3 separate regions of the Homo sapiens genome follow, and regions 2 and 3 are each linked to region 1. Evidence: fine-mapped expression QTL. A gene starts in region 1. Each other region holds a variant in brackets. All regions are shown on one strand. Distances are from middle to middle.

Region 1 (2,843 bases):
TGGGGACAAGAGCTGCCTCCAGTGGGGAAACCGTCTGATCAGATTGGCCCTGAGTAGGTAAGTACAGGGGGCTTCGCCTGGATGGGTCCACCTTGGCAGTCCCCCTGCACCATCTCCTGTGGGAGAGAGCTGTGGTAAGCTTCCTTCCCCAACCCCAATGTCAGAGTGACACAGGGACAGCACTCCCCTTCTGCATTGCCAATTCACGAGTCTTGGGGAATGAGCCCTACCTGAGGGATATCGAAAGGACTAGGAAGTCTGGGATCCACAGACATCATCCCAAAAAAGGGATCTGGAGCATCTTCTAGGGTCTCCATCATGGCCAGGTGGTTAGGAAGCAGCAGGCTGGGTCTGGGAGAGAATGTAGGCCGTGAAGGACTGAGGCTGAGCCAGGCTGAGGCCAAGCTAGCAGGTGTTCCATCAAAGGCCCAGGGCACACTCACAGCTCAGTCTCCATATCTATTCGGATCTGCAGCTGGGCACGGTGGAGGCGCTCCAAGATGTGCTGGATGTCCTCTGTGGGCAGGGAGGACGAGGTAGACAGCCAGCTTAGCAGACAGCTGCTCAGCCCGCCCCACCTTTGAGGGTTCCCAGCCTTACCCACGAGGTACTGGCATTGTTGAGAATAGACGCGGATCACACCGATCTGAAGTTGGGCTGAGAGATAGAGGGAGAAGCGGGGCCGCGGCAGGCCGGGCTGCGGGGGTTGCACTCGTACCAGCACGTAATTGAGGATTTCCTCGCTGGGGAACAATGCGCCCTGATTACCGCTGCGTCCAGGAGTGGGCCCACAGTCTTGGCCACCCCATCCCCTAACTCACCCCCCGCACCAGGCCCTCCTTCCCTTTTCTGGGCCTTACCAGGTTTTCACCACATTCACCCTCAGGTATTCGCGCTTCACCAACCGGCTGCCGCGAGTCGCCGCCAGCCTGAAGTGGGTGGGGAAGGTGGGAGAATGGGGATGGAGGGGGAGCTGTCAGGCTGGGATCCCGGGCAGCGTCCGCCATCGCGCGCCAACGGGCCCCGCCCTTACCAGATGGTGGCAAAGCAGCCGGTGTGGCGCTGAAGCACGTTGGGATAGTAGAACATTGTCCCTCTGGTCTTTCACCCTCGATTCCACCAGATCCCCGTTCGGATCTGAGTCGGAATTCTTTAGGGCACAGAATTCCCAACACCTTGGAGAGAAGTCAGGATTTGGACTTCTCTGGTGGCAAGGTGGGTGCACCTAGAAAGCCAAGTTAATGAGGCAACGAACAATGGGCAGATACACAATTACCAGGATAACTGAGACGCAGGAGATGGGCGCCCCTCTCTGTGGACCCTCAGTGGATCCGCACGCCACGTGATGCGTCAAACTTGAGACTTCTGGGTTGGGTTCCAGGTTGGAGATGCAGAGCTCCAAGGGGACGTCCGGGCCGGAATCCAGAGCAGGTCCCGAGGGAGCACGGTGTCCTCCACAGCAGGCCTCGGTCCTCGAGCGCTGGGAGCGATGTCAGGCCCCTGGGCCTTGCACTGGCTTGGGCGGCCGCGGTGTGGCCCCGGGCCGCCTACTGCAGGACTAGATCGCACCGCGGGAAGCGAGCGCTTCGGGGCACCGCACCTCGCTCCTCATTAGATGGCGGCTTTTGCCCTGACAGCCAATGGGGAACGGGGGTCGGGTCGGGAACGCCAAGTATCCTGGCAACAGGGTCTCCCGAGGCAGCCAGCAAACCAATCATAAGGATTTTGCGCGCCGCTGGGGTCCATTGTGAGGTGTTCCGACCAATGGGCTCCGGTTCTCGCCTCTAGTAACAGGCGCCCCTTCCTTGACCAATGAGCGCATCCCCGTCGCTCCCCCGCCGCTCCCCCGCCGCAAGCCTGGCAACAAGGGCGCCTCAATTGGTAGGGGAGGTCGGGTCACCTCGGGGGCAACTGTACTGGGCCTCTTCCGGGTGCCAAGATGTACCTTGCACGGCGCCTGACCTGAGGTTAGACCCCGCCCTTCCCCCAATCCACAAACTCCGACTTTGTTTCCAACTAGGGCGTGTCGTGTGCTGCAGAGGAAGAAAGATGTGAGATGAGGCCGGGCGCAGTGGCTCACGCCTGTAATCCTAGCACTTTGGGAGGCCGAGGCGGGCGGATCATGAGGTTAGGAGTTCGAGTCCAGCCTGACCAATATGGTGAAACCCCGTCTCTATTAAAAATGCAAAAGTTAGCTGGGCGTGGTGGCACGCGCCTGTAATCCCAGCTACTCAGGAGGCTGAGGCAGGAGAATGCTTGAACCTGGGAGGCGGAGGTTGCAGTGAGCCGAGATCATGCAGCTCCACTCCAACCTGGGCAAGGGAGCAAGACTCCGTCTCAAAAAAAAAAAAAAAAAAAAAGGCTGTGAGATGATGGCCTTGGAGCCACCACAGGTCAATGAGGAAGAAGTCCATTTTTTTTTTTTTTGATGGCCTTGGAGCCACCACAGGTCAATGAGGAAGAAGTCCATTTTTTTTTTTTTTTTTTGAGATGGAGGCTCTCACTGTTGCCCAGGCTGGAATGCAGTGGCGCTATCTCGGCAATCTCGGCTCACTGCATCCTCTGCCCCCCATCCCCTCAGGTTCAAGCGATTCTCGTGTCTTGGCCTCCTGAGTAGCTGGGATTACAGGCGCCCTCCATCACACCCAACTAATTTTTGCATTTTTAGAAGAGACGGGATTTCACTATGTTGGCCAGGCTGGTTTCTTTTTTTTTTGAGATGGAGTTTCACTCTGTCACCCAGGCTGGAGTGCAGTGGCGCAGTCTCAGCTCATTGCAGCCTCCGCCTCCCCGGTGCAGGGGATTCTCCTGCCTCAGGCTCCCGAGTAGCTGGGATTACAGGC
Region 2 (2,843 bases), 180 kb before region 1:
CTCCCAAGTAGCTGGAATTACAGGCGCCAGCCCCCACGCCTGGCTAATTTTTGTATTTTTAGTAGAGATGGAGTTTCACCATGTTGGCCAGGCTGGTCTTGAACTCCTGACCTCATGATCTGCCTGCCTCAGCCTCCCAAAGTTCTGGGATTACAGGCATGAGCCACTGTGCCCGGCCTAAAATTCACTTTTTAAGATGTTGAATCTCATCCAAAAACACCCTCCAAGCAGACCCATAAAATGTAACCATCACAAGGTCCTTCTCCCACACAATGGGAGCTTGCTCACTACTCCTCTCCTTTCCAGCTCCAATGCAAACACAGCCAAGAAGTGCAAGGGAGTTAGTGCCTCCAGATGCAATCCTCAACCAATGAGTGCAGGCACTGGCAGATGAATGTTCCAGCCTCCCATCCTTCATGTGGACAATTCTGGGAGGCATTCTTTAAATTTGGAGCCTCTACTGGAAAGGAGCCTCCACTGCCTACAATAACAATCTCAACAAAACATCCTCATATTGGCTTTCTTCCCTTCCTAGTTCACACTCTGTTCCCTCACTGCTGCTTCTTGGGATCCCCTCCCCAAAACACTACCTTTGTTAAATCCAAGCTCAGGCTCTTCTTTTTGGGAAACCCAAACTTAGACGCCTTCTCAGTAGCAGCTGAGTCTGATAAGTCTCTCCTCCCTTGGCTATCCTGGTTCTGCTCCGGCCTCTCTGACCTCAGTTTCTCTCACTGGTTTCTCTTCTGCTGGCCTGACTTTGGAGATGTAGTGTTTTCTGTCCTCTGCCTTCTTCCCTTCTTCCTCCATAGACTCTCTCGGTTGGTGTCGTTCATTTCAGCATAACTCTCACCACTTCCCTGCTCCGGTCTCCTGTCTTCTCCTGCCTGCTAGGGATCCCTTGAGGCTGCAGCACGTGGCTCTCACACAAACATGTCCACATCCAAATATAGCCCATTCCCACATAATGTATCTCTTCTATGTTCCATACCTCAGTGTCATGGCATTACTATTCTCTCAACTTTCCAGAATAGAAACTTTGAATATTCCTTCTCTCTCATCCCCAGGTTCTTCTACTAATACCTCAGAGTTATTTCTAGACTGAGTTTCTTCCTCTCGATCCCTGCAGGCATTAACTTGGTTCAGGTCCTCATCACCTCTCACTTGA[A/G]TTGCTCTAACTGTGGCCTGCAGTTTTCCCTGCCTCCAGTTCTCCCCATCTCATTTCATGCACCATGTAGCCACTGGCTTGAGCCTCCTAAGTCACAGATCTAATCATGTTGCAATGTAGCTCAAGACCATTCCACAGCTTCTGATATTAAAACAAAGCAAAACCTTTTAAGCCAGAGTTCCTGGCACAGAAGAACTTGAGAAGGCATGTATTCAAATGAGAACAGTGGTCATTTATGTACCCTTACTGCTCATTTGGGGCACCTCTTTACCTCCACACCACAGCTGTTTGTGGAGGGCACTTTCTTCCATCCAAAACCTGGTCTAAGTTACACAAATTCCCTGTTGGTAGTTCCCTTATCAAAGGTGAGTCAGTCTTACACTTTCAAAATGAACTTTCTTAAAAATTAAAGTAAATCCAAGAAGTACACACACACACACACACACACACACACAACCCATAAGCAGGAATATCTGAACCTTTAAAAATGAATAGATCTATTTTTTTAATCATAACAGGTAGAAATATAAAACCCAAACTCTAAAACTTAGAAAGAAGCATAAGAGAAAATCACTGTAACCTTGGATGAAGCAAAAATTTCTTATAGACTACACCAAAAGAAAAACTTGATTTTTTATCATCTATAAAAGAAAAACTTGACAAGTTGGATTTTGTCAAAAGTAAAACTTTTGCTCTTTGAAAGAAACTGTTAAGAAAATGAAAAGACTAGACATAGGCAGGGAGAAAGTATTTTTAAATGATACATCTGAAAAAGAACTTGTATCCAGAATATATAAAGAACTTTCAAAACTCGGTAATAATAAAACAAACAATCCATTAAAATATGAGCCAAAAATTTGAACAGACACTTCACCTAAGAAGACGTATGGATGGTGGTAGGGCGCAGTGGCTCACGCTTGTAATCCCAGCCATTTGGGAGACTGAGGCGGGCAGATCACCTGAGGTGAGGAGTTCGAGACCAGCCTGGGCAACATGGCAAACCCCTGCCTCTACTAAAAATACAAAAAAATCAGCCAGGCATGGTGGCATACGCCCGTAGTCCCAGGTACTTAGGAGGCTGGGGCATGAGACTCACTTGAACCTGGATGGCAGAGGTTGCAGTGAGCAGAGATGGCGCCACCGCACTCTAGCCTGGGCAACAGAGTGAGATTCTGTCTCAATTAAAAAAAAAAGAAAAGATATATGGATGGCAAGTAAGCACATGAAAACATGCTTATATTATTGGTCATTGTGGAAATGCAAATTAAAACCACAATGAGCTACCTATCCAAATAGCTAATAGTAACAGGACTTGAACATAGCAAATGATGGCAAAGATATGAAAGAACTAGAGCTCTCATACATTTCTGGTGAGAATATAAAATACTACAACTACTCTGAAAAACTATTTCACAATTTTTTTTTTTTTTTGAGAGAGAGTCTCACTCTATTGCCCAGGCTGGAGTGTAGTGGTGTGATCTCAGCTCACTGCAGCTTCCACCTCCCAGGTTCAAGCGATTCTCCTGCCTCAGCCTCCCAAGTAGCTGGGATTACAGGTGTGTACCACTACACCTGGCTAATTTTTGTGTTTTCAGTAGATACCAGGTTTCAACACGTTGGCCAGGCTAGTCTTGACCTCCTGACCTCAAGTGATCCACCCACCTCAGCCTCCCAAAGT
Region 3 (2,500 bases), 110 kb after region 1:
GCACAGGGAGGCTGGGGACTTGGATCAGGGCAGGACCATGGTCTACTCACCTCTCCAGGGCCCTTGCGATGTCCAGGAAGCCCAGGGCAGATGTATTGTTCCGATCCCATAGGATAGTTCTGGGGGGAGGGTAAGCACCAGTTTGGCACCTCTCCTCCTGGGTCCCTACTAGGGGCCAGGGACACAAACCTCTTGGGGCAATAAGGCTGACTCAGAGATGGTTCTGGGGCTGGGGGTCTTCTGGAAGCTGGGGTCCAGAGCATCAAGGAAAGCAGGGAGATTATGTACATATGGGGAGGGGCTGGGGCTCCAGGTCAGGGGGTCCCGGTGTGGGCCCCACCTGAGGGAGGAGTTTATCTGCAGGGCCTTAGACAGCATCTTGGCCCCGATGTCCTCCATGCCATTGCCGCTCAGATCCACCTTGGCCAGGCAGGTGTTGCTGCCCAGGGCATTGATGAGGATGCTGGTGCGAAGCTTCAGCCGGGAGTCTGCCACCGACAGTGACTGCAGGGACTGTGTGGGCAAGGGGCGGTTGGACCCAGTCCCCACAGCCTCCTCCGACTGCAGGTCCCCTCCCAGGCCCAGGCACTCACACAGTCCTCTTCCTGGATCAGCTGCACCAGCTTGTGGAGGATCTCCTCCAGGGTCCTGCAGGGAGGCGGGGCTCAGAGTAGGAGGGGAAGGGCTGGGGTCATGCTATTGGAGGAGGAGAGAGGTGGCCAGAGGTAATACGGTGAGCCAAGAGGATGGGTGAATGATGGGATGAGGGTCTGTGGGCATGGAAAGGGGGCCTCACTTGGCCTTGACATTGAAGTTCTTGCCCAAAAACAGGTGCTTGAGGGACTTGTTCTTGCCAAGTGCAGGCACCAGTGTCAGGAGGTCCGAGTCGAACCCTGGTGAGCAGATGGGAGAGGCCTGGCCTGGAGGCCTGAGGCTGACTGGTGTCCCATCAGGGCTGCTTCTGCATGCTCCAGGCCCCTGTTCTCCCCTGGCCCCAGGGAAGGGAGGAACCACTACTCACCATTGTCTGACAGATCCAGGCTGCCTACACAGGTGACAGCTCCCAGCTGCTCCTGCAAGGCTTGGGCTCCCGCTGAACGGAGCTGCAGGGACAAGGTGAGGTAGGGAAGGCAGGGGTTGGGGTGGGGGTAGGGCACCTTTAATGCTTAGGATATAGTAGTCACACCAGAACTCAAAGTCATGCCAGGATCTGGGTGTAAAATCAGGGAGACTCTTTCCCCACACCAGATCCTTCCCTAGAGCTGGCTTCCCTCCCTTCGGCCAGGAAGGCTGCTATTCCTAAGACAGCTTGCTCCTGC[C/T]CTCTGGTGGAAAAGTCTGGTATCTCCCACCCCAAAGCTTTAAGGGCAGAGATACTAGAGACTGAGAATGAATGGCCTCTGGAAAAGAGGCCAGACTGAGAGGGGAAAGTGGTGGTGTGGCCAGGTCAGGGGGTCGCAGAGGGTCAGCACAGAGGCTAGATGGAGCCAGGGTTTGACTTAGGTCTGAGAAATGCACATGGATCGGAGGCGGGCAGAGGGGTTGGGGACTGAGGGCTCACCTCGCAGCTGCTGAGATCCAGGTGCAGGTCACTGAGGTGACTGTTGAGGGAGAGGCCCTGAAGCAGCGCCCTGTGGGAGGGAGGTCAGCAGGCCCTCCTTTACCTCTTCCCGCTCCCCGTGGTTCCCTTGGATGCGCCCCCAACCCTGCACCCACCCGACCTGAGGGCCTCCAGGGGCAGCTTTGTGGCCGACAGATTGACGTGGCTCAGTGTGTAGGCGCTGCTGAAGAACTGCTTGAAGGCCGGCGGGGCCTCTCGACCCTTCCTGTGGAGAGACCCCTGGGGTCAGCGAGGGAGGGGGTTGGCCATGTCTTGCCCTGTCCTCCCTTCCCCCTCCTCTCCCACCTGTGGGAGCAGCTGTTGCGAGCCAGGTTGAGGTAGGTGAGGTGGGAGCAGCAGCCGTGGAGCAGGGCACCGAGAAGCTGTGGGGGGAGATATGGTGGGTCTCAGGGGAGCTGGAAGGGGGTAGGGGGTGGCAGGAAAGGACTCCCCCTCCCTCCCCATCGAGGTTCCTGGCTCTTCATTCTCTGTGGTCAGCCTGTGTGAGCTCCACTGGAGATGCCCACTCAGATTCTTGAAGTCTCTGTTTTCTCCCCTGTGGAACATGGGTCTACTCCCTGCCTGGCTTCCAGGGGCATGAAGCTGCTCACAGGCAGTGGATGTGTAAAGCCAGGGCCACCACTGACTCCTAAGGTGCCTTGTTCAAGTTAGGAAAAGCATCCATTCCCCTGGTGGAGCCAGGGTGCACAGCTGGGGAAGGGAGCAAGGGCTGGCTTTTAAGCACAGCAAGCACAAGCTTGTGACCTGGATAAAGTGCCACACAGGTATGAACTATGGACATTGCTTTATACTTCAGCTGAACCTGAAGTCATCTAGACAGCTCTGCCCGCCTGTGTACTCAGGGATAGGGGGTGAGACCGAGGCCCACTGTGGTCTTCCCCA

Direction of the effects. Positions count from the first base shown, and alleles are read on the strand shown. Sizes are in standard deviations (SD) of each study's normalised expression. Not every link is listed here.
In carriers of allele A in region 2, the expression in CD8 T cells of the gene that starts at base 1,562 in region 1 tends to be lower than with G alone (large effect, 1.3 SD a copy in Kasela 2017).

The links.
Region 2: its variant is fine-mapped to the expression of REC8 in CD8 T cells (Kasela 2017, PIP 0.95).
Region 3: its variant is fine-mapped to the expression of REC8 in whole blood (TOPMed, PIP above 0.99).

The regions. Positions count from the first base shown.
Region 1 is chr14:24,170,799-24,173,641 of GRCh38, reverse strand. REC8 (REC8 meiotic recombination protein) reads right to left here and starts at 1,562. Exons shown (of 19, transcript NM_001048205.2): 1 at 1,034-1,562; 2 at 861-929; 3 at 601-743; 4 at 444-516; 5 at 231-351. The coding sequence starts at 1,089. RefSeq lists enhancers at 1,332-1,581, 1,650-2,150 and a silencer at 1,752-1,801.
Region 2 is chr14:24,347,974-24,350,816 of GRCh38, reverse strand. No RefSeq gene overlaps it. Among named protein-coding and RNA genes, the nearest start is that of RIPK3, 9.4 kb to the right of the region's middle. The variant A/G (reference allele first, on the strand shown) is at 1,166.
Region 3 is chr14:24,057,283-24,059,782 of GRCh38, reverse strand. CARMIL3 (capping protein regulator and myosin 1 linker 3) reads right to left here. Exons shown (of 40, transcript NM_138360.4): 15 at 1,904-1,980; 16 at 1,719-1,823; 17 at 1,559-1,628; 18 at 1,022-1,103; 19 at 797-893; 20 at 594-648; 21 at 341-513; 22 at 51-119. Among named protein-coding and RNA genes, the nearest start is that of CARMIL3, 6.5 kb to the right of the region's middle. The variant C/T (reference allele first, on the strand shown) is at 1,320.